Linked DNA regions of Homo sapiens: region 2 is linked to region 1. Evidence: fine-mapped expression QTL. A gene starts in region 1. The other region holds a variant in brackets. All regions are shown on one strand. Distances are between the middles of the regions. Region 1 holds the start of AGTR2 (angiotensin II receptor type 2). Region 2 has its middle 450 kb from the start of CT83.

Region 1 (5,246 bases):
TCTTGCTTTCTATAACTGTAAAAATAAGCTAAAGCATAGGAGTATGATTTAATCTATATTCCTAGCCCTATTCAATATGTAGTTATAGATTAACTATAAACCTCCACTCAAGTGAAATGCAAGAGGAATATAATTTATAGCTTTTTTAAAGAAGCATATGCCTAAAGCCTGAATAATCCAGTACTAATCTATTATAATATACTCAACTTAGAAGTGCTCATCTCTCTTACAATGTTGTCTTGTAAATGATGCAATGAGTTGAAAGACTGGTTCTGGTTCAAGAGGAAATCCTGATAAAAATGGATATAAAACCCCACTAAGAAACACAAGCATGTTTCAAAGAGAAATCTGAATCCCCAAATCATTATTCACAATCTATTATTAATTACAATTTGAGATATATCACCAGTTACTTCTAGGTTGTAAATATGTCTCACTAATGACAATCTTGTACAAACATATCAGAAAAACAATGGGCAATTCCTGAAAGTCACTGGACGATAAAACATAGTTACATTTGGTTTCAGAAGATTCAGAAAAGATTAGGGGAAATTTTATTATTTTATTAAAACCACTTAAAAATAATTCTGGTGAGCCTCAAAGCAAGTAGCCATGTTGATTACATGCATTTTGCTCTCACGTTTAAGACACAAAGGTCTCCATTTCTCTAAGAGAACTGCTTTTCCGGCAAGACATACTCTCTCTTTTCCCTTGGAGCCAAGTAATTGGAACCCTAAACACACTGCGGAGCTTCTGTTGGAACCGGTTTCCAACAAAACAATACAGAAACGGATTAACGCAGCTGTTGGTGAATCCCAAGAGGATGGCAAAAGGAAGTGCCAGGTCAATGACTGCTATAACTTCGCAGCTATTAATGACACCCATCCAGGCCAGAGCATCCAGGAAGGTCAGAACATGGAAGGGAAGCCAGCAAATGATGAAGGCCAGAACAACAGCAGCTGCCATCTTCAGGACTTGGTCACGGGTTATCCTGTTCTTCCCATAGCTATTCGTCTTCAGTAAGTGTTTTCTAATTCCAAAATAGCATGTTGCTATGAATATTAAAGGGATAATAAAACCAAGGATATTTTTCATTAAGGCAATCCCAGCTGACCATTGGGCATATTTCTCAGGTGGGAAAGCCATAATGCAAGCATTCACTCCTAAGTATTCAATGGTTCTGACGTCTCGAAAATAAAATGTTGGCAATGAGGACAAACAGGCCATACACCAAACAAGGGGAACTATATAAGATGCTTGCCAGGGATTTCTTCTTTGAGACAGAAAGGGGTAGATGACAGATTGGTACCTATCAACACTCATGCAGGTGATAAAAAAAATGCTTGCAAACATGTTCAGGGTAAGAAAAGAACCAAAAACTTTGCACATCACAGGTCCAAAGAGCCAGTCATATCTATAAGAATAATAGGTTGCCCATAGAGGAAGAGTAGCCAAAAGGAGTAAATCAGCCACAGCGAGGTTGAAGATGTATATGCTAGAAACCTTTTTAGGACCCTTTTGACAACAAAACAGTGTAACCACGACAATATTGACCAGAAATCCAATTACAAATATAATGTAGTAAAGAATAGGAATTGCATCTAAATGCTTATCTGATGGTTTCTGTGAACAGTTCAAGGTAGACTCATTGTTGCCAGAGATGTTCACAAGCCCGAAGTGAAGACCGCTGGTAATGTTTTTGCTAGTAGTGGCAAGGGTGGAGTTGCCCTTCATATTGAAATGTCAGCAGCTCCTAGTTCTTATGCCTTCTGTGGAGAAAAAACATAGAACTCTTAGAACACATACAGAGCTGAGGACATCCTTGAATCATTAGCATTTTGAATGTTTGTCAAAAGCAAAAAAAAAGTGAGTGATTATAGAAAACATTAAGAAACAGAGCCATGGCTTGTAAAACAAGAATTCATTTTACCTCTTGAAAAAGGAGAAATAATTTTCCTGATAGTAGAAAAAAGACATTTCAGAGATTCAAAGTTCTGAATAAAACTACCTTTTGCCCATCTTTTCTATGATGTTTTTGAAAGATTTAAAGAAAATTAATATTTCAAAAGATTAGTCAGGGCAGGAAATGTGTGAAACAAATAAGAAACCCAGAGGTAAGAAAAGTTAATCTTTCAAAAAACACTTGAGCATATATCTCTGTTTGTATACTTTCTAGAAACCACACTGCTGCTTGCTATTGCATAGAGAAATGCTCTATTTAAGTAACTAATTACATACAAATCACTACAGCTGTGGAAAATATAAGTAACATAAGCAATGGAAAAAATAAGTATATAAAAAACTAAAAGAGAATATGCCAAAGGAACATATTGTGATGGGGAATCATGGTTTGTCTTTAATAATTAAAAATAATTCCTTTAGTTTTACTTTTCTATTGTTTTCACAATAATAATATAGTTAAGAAGAAGTTATGAAATATATTTATATTTCTAAGTCTTCTCCTTTTAATAGAGAATATTAGTTTTAGATATAGATATCTAATTTTGGTCTATTTAATATCTAAACAATCCATTTTCAATTAAATCAGATAAAGAAAAAAACAGCCAAACCTATGTTAGGTTCAAGTAGAAGTAGTTTAGATTGCTCAGTGAAATGAGAAATGAACATCAATGATTAATCATGATATAGTCTTATCATTTTTCTTTTTCTCTCTTTTCGGTTTAACCGAACTGAATAGCCGTTGCTCTCAAACGTTACAGTGTTGAGGTTTTTGTGATTTTTTTCACTAGAAGCATTATTTTAAAACCAAAAAAAAAAACACATTAGCTAAAGATAAGCATACAAAGGAAACACTATTTACTTTAGATAGTTTCAAAATACATGCAAATAAGCTACCCAATTAAAAGTGTAATATCTAAAGAACCTCCTAATAAAGAGCAAAACTTTTATTTTGCTCTAAAGATTTTTCTTTTGACCTAACAAATTAACATAAAAGAATCAATAATAAATTCCACTTGAAGACTTACTGGTTGTTGAAGTTTAAAGCAGTTATCATAAATCAGCTTGCTTAGTGCCTAAACACACTCCTGTAAGAGAAACAGCAGCTAAATAATTCAGGAGTTTTGCAAAATACAGTGTTAAAACACAGGAAAAACAGAAGTTCATCCATAAAAAATATTTTCATTTAATGTATGTTCTACTTTCCAAGTAAATTATATATAAATTGTTCATACTTACCTTCAAAATTCAGGCTGCAGAATGCTTTGAATTCTGTGCTTACTCGTTCTCTCAGACGCTGGGACGTAATAGCACCAGATCTCTGGTTTCCTTCTTATATGTTTGGTCTGTCCACTGGGAGCCTTCAACCTACATAATTCTAGGGCTGACTTATGAACCCTTGCCAGCTTTCCAGAGAGGTTTTTTTTTGTCTGCAAAACATTAATCTGAAATTCTCACTGTCTCCAATCATAACAGCTCATTCAAATAAATCTCAAACAAAAAAAATGAAGTTTCCACAAATGTGCTAGAGAATTTTGAAGTCAGTGGCTTACTTGGTAGGAGAAAAATATAGTAATTATTTACAGAATTTTCTCTTCCTTTTTTCCTGATATTGGCATTCTAATAGAAATTAGTGAGTAGAGACTAGGAAATTTATTATAGTAGCAAAGTCTTTGTTCATCAGCTTTCACAACCTTCATTACTTTCTGAAATTTTTACCCCTGTTTATTAAAGAATGGTAGGAATTTTACTTGAAGTCTACCACTTCTAAAATTTCTCCCTTGCTTTGCGCAGTTTTTGTTGGCTTGTTGCTGGAGGGTTGGAGATTGCAGGAATATAATTTTTACACGACCAAAAAGAGGTTTAGTCTCCTTTCATAGGTCTCTGTCATATTTGTGGTTTAAATACAAAGCACATAAAGTGAAGAGGGATTCGCTAGCTATTTCAACCTAGATCACTGTTGCTGCTGTCTCTTGTGGCAGTGGGGGCAATAAACTACACAACCAATCCAGCAGAAGCAAGAGTGACAAAATGAAGAAAGATAAGAACAGGTGATGGTAGTGATAATACTAGCTGACAATAAATGTTATGTGCCGAACACTGTGATGAGTTATTTATCATCAATAATTTAATAGAGAGGCAATATAGCACACTGGTTAGTAAATAGCCTCTGGGATCCAACTACCTGGCTTTACAAACCCAGCTCTACCACTTACTAATTCTGACCTTGGCCAAGTTACTTTACTTCTTCATGTCTCAGTTTCTCATCTGAGAAAGGAGAATGATATAAATTACCTACATCGTAGAGTAGGAATTTTAAATAAGCTAATGGAAAATTAAATGAGCTAATATGTTTAAAGTGCCTAAAATCATGCCTAGCATATGGTAGGTGCTATTACAAGCTATTCATATTAGCCCCCACTTTACAAATCAGGAAACTAGGACTCATAGAGTTTAATAACTTTTCTGAGATCATACAGCTATTAAATGAAGACACTTGCATTTAAATCAAAGGAAACTAATATCAGAACTCACGCTGTTTAGCCTCTATACCACAAGAGGAAGCACTAGATGGTCCCTTAGTCTCACTCTTTGTCTTGGCAAAAAGGAAACGTGGCATTTACAGAAAATCACTGATGACCATTCATAATCTATCATAAAAGCATCAAAGAAGGGGAAAAGAATTGGAAGAATTGTTATGTGGGGAAACGTATTTTTCTTAATTGTATTGCCCAAATGGAGACCACAGGAAGGAGAAACTTGTGACTAGATGGCTTTCTATAGTTAGTACAGAGAACCAGAGAACCTAGAGCACATTTTAAATGGGCAAAAAGATTCAAGTTATTTCTGTGGATCATATTTTTCAGATAAGCAGCAAGAATGCACCTGTCCATGCTGCAGGCCACAGGTAAAGAATGAGGGCAGGCTCTGAGGAAGTAGCTGGGCACCTAAGTATGGAGTTCAGCAGAACAAGGAAGGAGAAGTCAGTGTTGATGACAGAAGACAAAATTGCAAATGGCATGAGACAAATCACATGGCTTTTGATATCTGTCTGTTTCTCCATTAATATTAAAGTCAATACTGTAGCACACAGGCAGATGAGATCAGTGAGAAGTCATCGTTATGTGAAAAATACAGTAGGATTCAAAGGTTTGCATAGGCCATCATAAAGTTTGTTTGGTAAACAGTTTGAACATTGTCAAAATGCCCCTAATATATGTATGCACCATTTTACTAAATCTCAAAATATTTGTTTCCTATGCTCTGGACAGATTCAGTTGAGGCTG
Region 2 (5,246 bases), 740 kb before region 1:
CAAAATACTAAAACTTGCTACCTAGGGATAAACAGCAGTGGTACCTTGTTCCCATTATAAAAAGGATTGTTTGGCTAGGGAAAATATCTATGGGAACAGAGTGTGGAGGAGAACTTGCAGTTTGGCCATTTGAGGCCATCCAGATTTCAGCAGATGTCAAAGCAGCACATAATGTTAATTATTAATTTTAAGCCTTATACCACAAATGGAATAATTTAAATAATAAACAAGAATAATATTGTTAGCCACAGAATAATATAATGTCTTTTTTATAGAAAATTATAATTAATAGATATGGATGAAAAATGATAATAAAAAATTACCATTAGAACACCACAGTAATAATTGTTTTTGGCAAGATCTACTGAAGCACATTAAAATTAGTGGACAAAAATTTACAGAAAATTAGCACATATGAATAGTCTCAAAATACCTTTTCCAAAATATTTATTACTAACAGGAGAACAATAGTAAATTTATGGTAGAGTAAGCTCTCAGACACTACCTTAACTGAGTGATTAAGATTAATGTTACCAGTAACGAGAAATAGAGACATCCTGTGATCCCAATATAATTCAGTGAGAAAAGCAAAACACGACCTCTGTGGTTTTCTTCCAAATATTGCACCACTTCAGTCTAATCATGAGAAAACATTAGAGAAAACCTATTTGAGGGAAAACCTAGTAGAGAAAACCTATTTCTAGAAATACACTGACCAGTACACTTCAGAATTATTGAGACATAAAAGACAAGTAAATACCAAAGAATTTTTGCAGCTTGAAGGAGATTAAGAAAGCATGGCGACTTAACACAATGTAGTATTTAGGATTAGATCCTGGAACTGGAAAAAAAAATAATGGAAAAACTTGTTAAACCTGAAGCAAGTTTGTAGTTTATGTAACAATACTGTATAAATGTTATTTTCTTAGTTTTTATAAATTCACCATGGTTATGTAAGATGTTAATAGGAGAAACAGGGTGAAGAATGTATGGGAACTCTACTATTTTTACAAATTTTCTGTATGAGTCTAAAGTTATTCAAAATACATTTTTGAAAGATCAGCTATATACACACAACACAAGAGAACCACCACCAACGGATCCACATGGTAATATAATTTCAAAATTGCTTGTACTTTAGTTTTTGTTGTTTAAATTACACAAACTCTGGAATATCTATTGTTTTGTTCCATTCCCAATAAAAAATAGGGTGGAGTTTGGAGGATTCCATATTGTCTTGCCATGTAAATAAGTAGTATGGACCCCAGCTTCATGCATGTCCTATAACCTTTGCTATCATTAAATTAAGCTGTAGCTAATTGCTATTGTTTTTTTGCCATCCACTTCAACTGGCATTTACTGTGATAATCCTGGACCCACTGTGGCCTCTGGTTGATGATAGTCTTTGCACTATGTGTCCTCCTTATCCAAACCACTAATATACATCTCCTTGGCCTGCCTTATTTCAACTTTCCCTGCACTCACCTGAAGTATAGGAATTTTACAAAGCTCTATAACAAGGTACATATAACTCAGTGAGCCTACCTTTAGGTCTATCTACTTTGACTTTCACTCACCATTGTTGGTTGAGAGTCCCAGCACCATGCTGAATGCATGTCTAACTATATTCTCAGTTGACAACATGAACAGCTAGACAAAGGTTGCTTCTACTTTAGAGAGTACCCTCCAACTTATCTGGTGTTTCCTTCACATTGTCCCTCTACCTGGAGTGAGTGTGGGGAACACAGGATCCCTTATTAGAGATACTCAGTGTCTTCTAACACTATTACTCTAAACTCCTGCGTTAGCATCAAACATATCTCTTTTGGAGATGGTAAAAGAGTATAATATAATCATGAATTCTTTCCTCACTCATTTTTATAACATAAATGTTATCCACATAATTTTGTAATCTTTCAAATGTTTGTATTTACATTCAGGCTGCTGTTACCATAATAATGCATTTTATATCTCCAAAGTCTTAATATAGATCCTACAAAATCAGAAAAAAACTTGGCTTTCAATACTATTGATCATTTTCCATGAGTTTTACAAATGTATTTAAAAACTCAATTGATAGGGTGTTATCAGCAAGGTGGTGAAGTAGTAGACAAGCCTTTCAGCCCCCACTGTCATAGTCTGTTTTATATTGCTTATAGCAGAATAGAGGAGACTGGGTTATTTATAAAGAAGATGACATTTATCTCTTATAGTTATGGAGACTGAGAAGTCCAAGTTTCACTTGAGAAGTTCAACGATTGAGGAGCAACATCTTGGGAGAGCTTTCTTGCTGGTGGGGACTCTCTGTACAGTCCCAAGGTGGTACAGGGCAGTTCAGGGCATCACATGGCAAGGGAGCTGAGTGTGCTAACATGTTAGCTCAGTTCTCTCTTTCCTTTCTTATAAAGACACCAGTTGCCTTCCCATGATGACCTAGTAATTAACTGATGAATAGATTCATCCATTTGTGAGGGGAATACCCTCACAAACCAATCACCTATGAAACGCCCGACCTTTTGACACTGTCACATTGGGGATTAATTTTCACCATGAGTTTTGGAAGGCACAATATTCAAATCATAGTATCTACAGAAAGCAACAAATAGTTATTCATGAAGAATAATAGCCCTGGGAGGGATCAAGGGTTAATTTAAGAACTTGAAGCAACACAGTGGAGAAAAACAGAAAAAAGCAAAATGAAACAATACAATAAAATGAAGAGTAAAGACACAGAAAAGATCCCTGGGGAAGTTGGCATACCTGAGATGTCTGGAGATAGTAGGAACAAAGAAATAGGCCAGTGGCTGTCAGCATCAGCCAGGCAATGGGTGACATCATGGTCTTCAGTTGCCTATGCTGGAAAGAACACTAGCATCTTTTACCAGTGAGGTAATCAACAGCAATCCCCTCCAAAAACCGCTGAGATGGAGACGTGGGTGTGCCCCCGCCCCCCCCAAGAAGAAGCAGCTGTGCACTGTTTCAAGGCTGGAGCCATCACCTCTTCCAACCTTGCACACACTCTTGACTCTGAAGTTGTGACCGCTGTGCATATGCCCACACTTCAAACACTGGCTCCAAAGAACTTCTCATTTTCTAGTGTTTCAGACTTCGGCTCTGTGGCCAAACCACACACACCCATGCTGCAAACACCAGAGATATTGCAGCTACAGGCCAGCCTTGTCTCATTCTCTGGAGCCTTGGTCACTCTGTGCATGCC[C/A]GTACTACATATTCCTCCTCCAGGGCTGCTTTATGTGTGCCTACTCCTAGGACATCGGAGCTGCAGTTACATCAAGTTAATCACTACTACATCTGGAACTCCAGAGCCACTATAACTTCTTATGTGCCCATGTTCAAGACTCTGACTACCTGGCTGTGCTGCCTACAAAGATATGTATCTACTACAGGTTTTTGCTTTGTGGTCAGCATGAGATTTCTTATAGTTAGAAAAGACTATTTTAAGCTAATAACAGCATAATCTTAAATGAATGAAAAGAACTCTACACTTTTACTCCCCCTCCCACTTTTTATGTTTTTGATGTCAAAATTCACATCTTATTATACTGTGTATCCATTAACAAATTATTGTAATATAGTTATTTTTAATGCTTTATAGTTTTACCTTTAAATTATTGAGTTATAGGTGATTTACAAACCATCATTATGAGTATTCTGAATTTGATTATATATTTATTTTACCAGTGAACTGTATATAGCAGATACACAAAAGATAACAAGAGATGAGTCAGGGCATACCACTACAGGACAGGAAATCATCAAATCACCAAAATAATGATGATAATAATAATAATAATAAAGACAGCAGCAAGAGTATAAGAAACAACAAAAGATCTACAACATAACCAGAAAGCATTAACTAATGGCAGTAGTAAGTCCATACCTATCAATAGTTCTTGAATGTAAGTAGATTAAATTATTTAATCAAAAGATGCAGAGTGGCTGAATGAATAAATAAACAAGACCCAATTATATTCTCCCTATAAGAAGCTCACTTTAGATTTAAGGACACTCAGGGACTTAAAGTGAAGGAAAGAAAAAAAGATACTTAATGCATATGTAAACCAAAAGAAAGCAAAAGTAGCTATAGTTTTATCATATAACATAGACTTTAAGACAGAAACTGTGACAAGAGGCAAAGAGGGTCATTATATCATGGTAAAGGAGTCAATTTATCAAGAGAATAGAGCAGTTGTAACTATGTATGCACCCAGAATTGGAGCACCTAAAATATAAAGCAAATATTAATAGATCTGAAGGGAAAAATACAAAACAATAATACTGGGGGATTTGAAACCCCAGTTTCAATGACAAATAGATCATCTAGACAGAAAATCAATAAGGAAACATTGTTCTTGAAGACACTTTAGACCACATGAACCTGGAAGGCATATACACGTATGCTTTCCAACAACAGCAGAATACGCATTTTTCTCAAGTGCATGTAGAACATTCTCCAGGATAGATCTTATATTAGGCCACATAACAAGTCAGTGAATTTAAAAGATTGAAATAACATCTAGTATCTTTACTGACCAAAATGGTATGCAACAAAAAATCAATAACAGGAAGAATTTTGGAAAATTCAAAATTTGTGGAAATTAAACAACATGCTATTGAACAAAAAATAGATCAAACAAGAAATCAAAAGGAAAATTTAAAAGTTCCTTAAGACCAATACAAATAGGAACACAGCATATCTAATCATATGAGATGCAGAAAAAGCTGTTCTAAGAGAGAAGTTGCTAGAAATAAATGCATATATTAAGGAAAAAGAAAGTTTCCAAACAAACAACCTACTTTTACACCACAAGGAATAGAAAAACTAACTGAAGTTAGCAGAAGAAAAATAATAAAAATTAGAGCAGACATAAAACAGAAATGAGAAAAAAACATAGGAAAGGTCAACACTCATTTTGTAAAGATAGTAAAATTGACAAACAGCTATACTAAGAAAAATCAGAAATGAAAATATGTTACCACTGATATCAGAGAAATAAAAGGATCATAAGAGACTACTATGAACCAATATATACCAACAAATTGGATAACCTAGGAAAAAATTGATGAATTCCTAATCATATACTGTCTACCAAAACCTATTTCATGAAGAAATAGAAAATCTGAACAGACAAATAAGGAGTAAAAAAATAGAATCAGCAATAAAGAATCTACAATCAAAGAGAATCTCAGGAATGTTTTATGGCTGAATTCTACCAAACATTTAAAGA

The links. PIP is the estimated chance that this variant, and not a neighbour inherited with it, causes the effect.
Region 2: its variant is the best candidate, but not a certain one, in a credible set for the expression of AGTR2 in aorta (GTEx, PIP 0.65).

What each region holds. Positions count from the first base shown.
Region 1 is chrX:116,168,769-116,174,014 of GRCh38, reverse strand. It overlaps AGTR2 (angiotensin II receptor type 2), which reads right to left and starts at 3,271. Exons shown (of 3, transcript NM_000686.5): 1 at 3,199-3,271; 2 at 2,988-3,047; 3 at 1-1,769. The coding sequence starts at 1,734. The coding sequence ends at 643.
Region 2 is chrX:116,906,104-116,911,349 of GRCh38, reverse strand. No RefSeq gene overlaps it. Among named protein-coding and RNA genes, the nearest start is that of CT83, 450 kb to the right of the region's middle. The variant C/A (reference allele first, on the strand shown) is at 3,218.